Linked DNA regions of Homo sapiens: region 2 is linked to region 1. The links come from fine-mapping of genetic effects on gene expression. A gene starts in region 1. The other region holds a variant in brackets. All regions are shown on one strand. Distances are between the middles of the regions.

Region 1 (2,912 bases):
GGCTGGTCTCAAACTCCTGACCTCAAGTGATTCACCTGCCTCGGCCTCCTAAAGTGCTGGGATTTCAGGCGTGAGCCACCGCGCCCGGCCTTTTACCTTAAATTTAAAGCAAGCTGTTTGAGTGCCTCTCTGCAAGCCTGCCTGAAACTGGCTCACCTGAGCATGAATCATTGCTAATACGTAACACCAAAGGGGCAAGTGAAGATTCATTTTAAACTGAAACATAACTAAATACAACGCCCTTCCCCACATCCTACCTCTTCCATTAATCAGAGATGCTTTAAAACCAAACTTCAGTCAAGATTTAGTACTTTCATTTACCTTATATTTCAAAGCTCCACGGCACAAGGGCAGGAGCTGAGACAGGTTCCTCCCTCTCACGGTATCCCCGCATCTGCGCAGCTCCCGGCACACAAGCGAGCCAGGGAGGAGGGAGGGAAGAAATTCTTGCCTAGAACTTTCCCATCACTTAACTTTTTTCTTATTAATTTTTTTTTTTTTTTGAGACGGAGTCTCTCTCTGTTGCCCAGGCTAGGAGTGCAGTGGAGCTGTCTTGGCTCTCTGCAGCCTCCGCCTCCCGGGTTCAAGCGATTCTCCTGTCTCAGCCTCCCGAGTAGCTGGGACTACAAGCACCCGCCACCATGCCCGGCTATTTTTTTTTTTTTTTTTTTTTTTTTTTTTTTTTTTTGGTATTTTTAGTAGAGACAGGGGTTTCACCATTTTGCCCAGGCTGGCCTCGAACTCGTGAGCGCAGGTGATGCGTCTGCCTTGGCCTCCCAAAGTGCTGGGATTACAGGCGTCAGCCACCGCGCCCGGCCCGCCACTACTTAACTCTTATTGAGCAACATTTACAAAATTATTCATTCACTTATTTAACAGATATTCTGCAATCCCCTTCGGGGCAAGCTTGCTGGTAGAAACTAGAAACAGATTTAAGAAGGCATAGATGCTGCCCGCAAGGAGCTTACAATCTATTAGACAAGAAAATAGAGCATAGCCGAATTATGGCACGTTCCCTTGCAAAAGGTACGGATGGAGCGTCAGGAGAGGTGAAGAAGGGGCAGAAAACTGGAGGAGGTGATGAGGAGTCTGTTTCCCAGAGAGGAAACGGAGGCTGGGAGGTGGCAGGTATCTAAGGGGCAACACCTGGCGTCCGCGAGGACCAAGTCACCTTTCTTGAGGACACCCACTCCGACAGCCGAGATCAGGTTGCCCCAGCTCGTCCAGGTTGCCCCAGCTTGTCCACGTTAACTGCGCTGCGGGAGCGGCGAGGGTTCCCAAGCGCGCGACACGCCTGGGCTGCGCAGCGCCTCTGCACGTTCCACCACAGCTGGCGTTTATTGTGTGATGTGTTGCCCCGGGTACGGGAGAATCCATTCCAAGCACGCTGTGGGAGGATACGAGGAGATTCGAATCCGCATCGAAGAACACACAGAAGGATGTGTGAGCTTCTGTAGGACAGAAAAGACTTAACTAATAGAATTTACCAAACATAAGTCTTCGGCTACCCGCCCCGCCTCGCCGTCCGCGAGGGACTGCGGTGTGGTACGCTCCGTGACGTCATGCCGCCGAGCATGTCGGGAGTTGTAGTTGGTCCGCCCGGGCCCCGCCCCTGGGCCGTGCGGTGACACCACTTCAGGGCCGGCCCCCGGAACTTTTGGGCAGGCGTCAGCGCCCGTGTCACCGCCACGTCGCGGACATGGTGAGTATCTCTGCTCGTCACCGACCCCTGTGTTTTTCCCCGGACTTTGGCAGCCGCCACGAGCGGGCTTCACAGCGCCTGAAAGGAGCTGGTCCTGCCGGGGTCCAAGATGGCAGCTGCGAGCTGCGTGGGCAGGGCGGCTCTCCAGTTCGCCTGTCTCCGCGCTGGGCCGGGGGGAAAGTGCCCTACACAAGTGTGCACCCCGCCTCGGCCACCTTGGACACGCACCCCCTGCTACTTCTCTGTGTGAAAGTATTTTGAGAGACTTCGGCGTTTTTGAAGCCTTGCAAGAAGGGCTTAACCTGGGACAGGCGCAACTTTCTTCGGATATTATATTCCCCTAGTTCCCGTGGTATTTCCCTCCCCTGGTTTCTCTCCTGTCTCATTGCTCAGCAAGGTTCTCCAATCCCTATCCTAAATGGTGGTGCTCTTCAGGGACGCTTTACACCCTATGCGTTCTCCTAAAATTTTATCTCTAAGTTAGACCTTTCTTCTGAGCTCCAGACCCACAAATCTGCTAACCGTGCCTCCACTTGGATAGCTCATATGTATTTCAAGCTCAGCAAGTTCCAAACTGAGCATTTCCACTTCCCCACAGCCCACACCTGCTCTTCCTCCAGGAACCCCCAACTCTGTAGATGGCACCACCATACATCCTGTTGTGCCTGCCCAAAACCTGGAAATCATCCTTGACATCTCCCTCTTCTCAACTCCCCGACATGCAGTCAATAATCAAGTCCTATAGATGCTACTTCTAAATGTCTGTCTGTTGTCACTGTCGCCACTCTTACCATCCTTGGCCTTGAGATCTATCCATCTGGGGTAGTCACCTAAGTGGTCTTTTAAGCAGATCTTCACTCATCGATGGCCCTGCCTGGAATGGGCTATTGCACCTTCACTCACCCTTCAGATCTCAGCCTCAGTATTATTTCTTCAGAGAGTATCTCAGCTAATTCGGAAGTCTAGGAAGACTAGTGCTTTTATGAATGATGTCTTGTGGAATCTTCATAACAACCCTGGGAAGTTGTGTATTTTTCCAGTTTTACAGAAGAGAAACAGACTTAAGTGATAAGTTAAATTGTGTAAAATTGTACAGTAAGTAGCAGAGTTAAAATTTGTTCTTTCCTGTCTAACTTTTATCTTCAGTATCTTTAAATATTTTTTATTTAAATGGGTACATACTAGTTTGTTTGGTAGTATTCTTTATTTA
Region 2 (2,912 bases), 38 kb after region 1:
GGAGGCTGAGGTGGGAGAATCACGTGAACCTGGGAGGTGGAGGTTGCAGTGAACCAAGATTGCGCCATTGCACTCCAGCCTGGGCAACAGTGTGAGACTCCGTTCTCAAAATAAATAAATAAAATAAAAATAAAAATAAATAAAAATTAAAAAAGGCCAGGTGTAGTGGCTCACATCTGTAATCTCAGCACTTTGGGAGGCCAAGGTGGGGTGGATCACAAGGTCAGGAGATCCAGACCATCCTGGCCAACATGGTGAAACCCTGTCTCTACTAAAAATACAAAAATTAGCTGGGTGTGGTGGCAGGCACTTGTAATCCCAGCTACTTGGGAGGCTGATTCAAGCAGGAGAATTGCTTGAATCCAGGAGGCGGAGGTTGCAGTGAGCCGAGATCGCACCACTGTACTCCAGCCTGGCGACAGAGCAAGACTCTGTCTCAAAAAAAATAATAATTATTATTATTTTATTAGTAAGATTAGCATTTTATACTTTTTCTCCTCTTAGGAACAAAGATTAATTTGAGTAGGATGTTAACACATTTTGAGAAATTTGAGTTATTGTAAGGAAATGTTTGTTGTGCAACCTATTTTCTTCATTTAAACAATATAAAGACAGTAGATGAATACATAGCATACCTTCAGAAACAGCATGTACATATATAATTGAAATATTATTTTTCTGTATAATTTATCATTTGAAACATTTTCTTTCAACTGCTGTGAGAACACTGTCAGGTAGAAGAAGAAAAAGCTTAAGGTTTATTCTTACCGAACCTGTGTTTACTAGAAGTCCTAGATAGATAGATAGGTAGGTAGATAGATAGCCTAGGTAGGCCTGATAGGTAGGCAGGCTAGGTAGGTTAGGCAGGTTAGGTAGGTAGGTAGGCAGATAGGTAGATAGATAGTAAAAGGAAAAGGAAATCTGGGAGCCCAAGATCTTGAGTTAGTAGGTAGGCAGAAATAAGACCCCGGGACATGGCTATATCAAAGGTTTAATTAATATTGGGAATAAGGATGAGATGTTGCTTGTACAGCAGACTTGATGGACTTGTCCCTCAGGAAACCAGCCTAACACGTTCTCATCAGATCAGAAGACCACTGCGCTGCTCTCACCTCAGACTTCATCTCCTACCATGTGGGATGTGAGAAGCCACCTCCCTAATTTCTGAGTCCGAATCTCTGCCTTACAC[G/A]CCGTGGAACTCCTCCATCATCTGGGTTTCTAGCTGTGCCACAGGCCTGAAAATATTAGCTTAGGTTTAAATTCAGTGAACTTAAGGGGCAGTCTACACACCACGGGGGCATCCCCTAGGGCCGGCCTGTCCTCGGCCTACTGCGTCGCTTTTCCTGTCGAGGGCTCGTCACACAGCCTTTCCACTTCCACGGGACAGTGGGGAAAAGGAGTTAGAGAGGGAGGAATCATATCCAGAGGCCTTCATTCCACCCCTGCCTCAGAACCCAAGTTGGGAGAGAGCTTTCAAGGCACGGAGACGTGGGAGAAGGCCCGGGGCTGGGGGCTGGCTTCTCGAGCTCTGGTGTGAAGACGCTGCCCACCTCTGCAAGAACCCGTTATCCAGCGGGGTGGGGACCTTGTGGGGAATATGGAGCTGCTGTAGGCAAGGACAGATAGCCTTATGGCTGTCCATCTGTGGCCAATGGCAGTATGTTTGTAACCTCACCACAATATTATTACAGAAAATTTGAGAAATAGAGAAGAGAAACATGCAGGTCCACAGTCTCTTACTTGCAATTCAAAAAGACATGAGGGTCTGAAACACAGTATGTTTATAATTCTTAAGGCAGCAAGATCATCTTAGCTGCACACGCCTGAGACTGTATTTAGTGTTTATTCCATTTTGTGTGAACAGTGTTATATTTTACTGCAGAAACACAACTATGGCAAAAGGGTGCAATTCTAGACCATGCCCAGGCGGTTCTGCAGTAGGGTGTACATGTGTTATATGTTATTTGTACATTGTGTGGCATTTCCAAAATCCAAACACGTCTTAATTCTAAAACATTTCTGTTCCCAAGGTTTCGGATACGGCCTTATATACCTGCACATAATCCACAGTTCACACGGTGGTTTTTTGTTGGTTTGTTTGAGACTGAGTCTCGCTCTGTCACCCAGGCTGCAGTGCGGGGGCGCAATCTCGGCTCACTGCAGTCTCTGCCCCTCGTCTCATGCCTCAGGCTCCCGAGTAGCTGGGATGACAGGCACCCACCACTAGCCCAGCTAATTTTTGTATTTTTAGTAGACACGGGGTTTCACCATGTTGGCCAGGCTGGTCTCGAACTCCTAACCTCAGGTGATCTGCCCACCTTGGCCTCCCAAAGTGCTGGGATTACAGGCATGAGCCACTGCACCCTGCCAACACAATGGTTTTGATGTGTTTACACATAGGGTCTTTTCTCCCCTTGCTTCTTTACTTTTATATAATAGTAAACATCATGTACGTACATGTCTCCACGGCATCCACTTGCCTCTGTCCTCAGCTCAGTGGCCTTCGTAGTGCTGGTGCCTCAGCTTGTCACCACTAGCTAGTCCTTTCAGTAAGTCCAAAGCAACTACATTTCTACTGACTCCTCCGTTTACAAGAGTCCCAGGCACTGCTGGAGGGTGTAGTCTCTTAAGGTCCAGGGGTCACGTTGGGGTGTACCTGTCTCCTATAGCCAAAAGTTTGGGCCAGGACTAGTGAGGATGCAGCTTGTGCAAAGACTAAAACACCATCAGGCAGCTTTTCCAAAGCACAGAAATGGCTGGAATCCACCTGCCCCATGCCCTTAAGAGCACTGAGGTAGGCTGGAGCCCAGCCTTTTCTCTTGTCCTCTCTGCCCACCACTTTCTGGGCCTCTGACTGATGCCTGGATTTTTAAAATTAGTATTTAAAATGTTAATAGTTTTTTGCATATAGG

The links. PIP is the estimated chance that this variant, and not a neighbour inherited with it, causes the effect.
Region 2: its variant is fine-mapped to the expression of UFSP2 in whole blood (TOPMed, PIP above 0.99).

Annotation. Positions count from the first base shown.
Region 1 is chr4:185,424,656-185,427,567 of GRCh38, reverse strand. UFSP2 (UFM1 specific peptidase 2) reads left to right here and starts at 1,604. Exons shown (of 12, transcript NM_018359.5): 1 at 1,604-1,702. The coding sequence starts at 1,700. It overlaps CFAP96 (cilia and flagella associated protein 96), which reads right to left and starts at 1,314. Exons shown (of 8, transcript NM_001114357.3): 1 at 1,172-1,314. RefSeq lists enhancers at 1,301-1,660, 1,731-1,840.
Region 2 is chr4:185,386,421-185,389,332 of GRCh38, reverse strand. All of the region lies in intron 1 of LRP2BP (LRP2 binding protein), which reads left to right. Among named protein-coding and RNA genes, the nearest start is that of LRP2BP, 8.0 kb to the left of the region's middle. The variant G/A (reference allele first, on the strand shown) is at 1,190.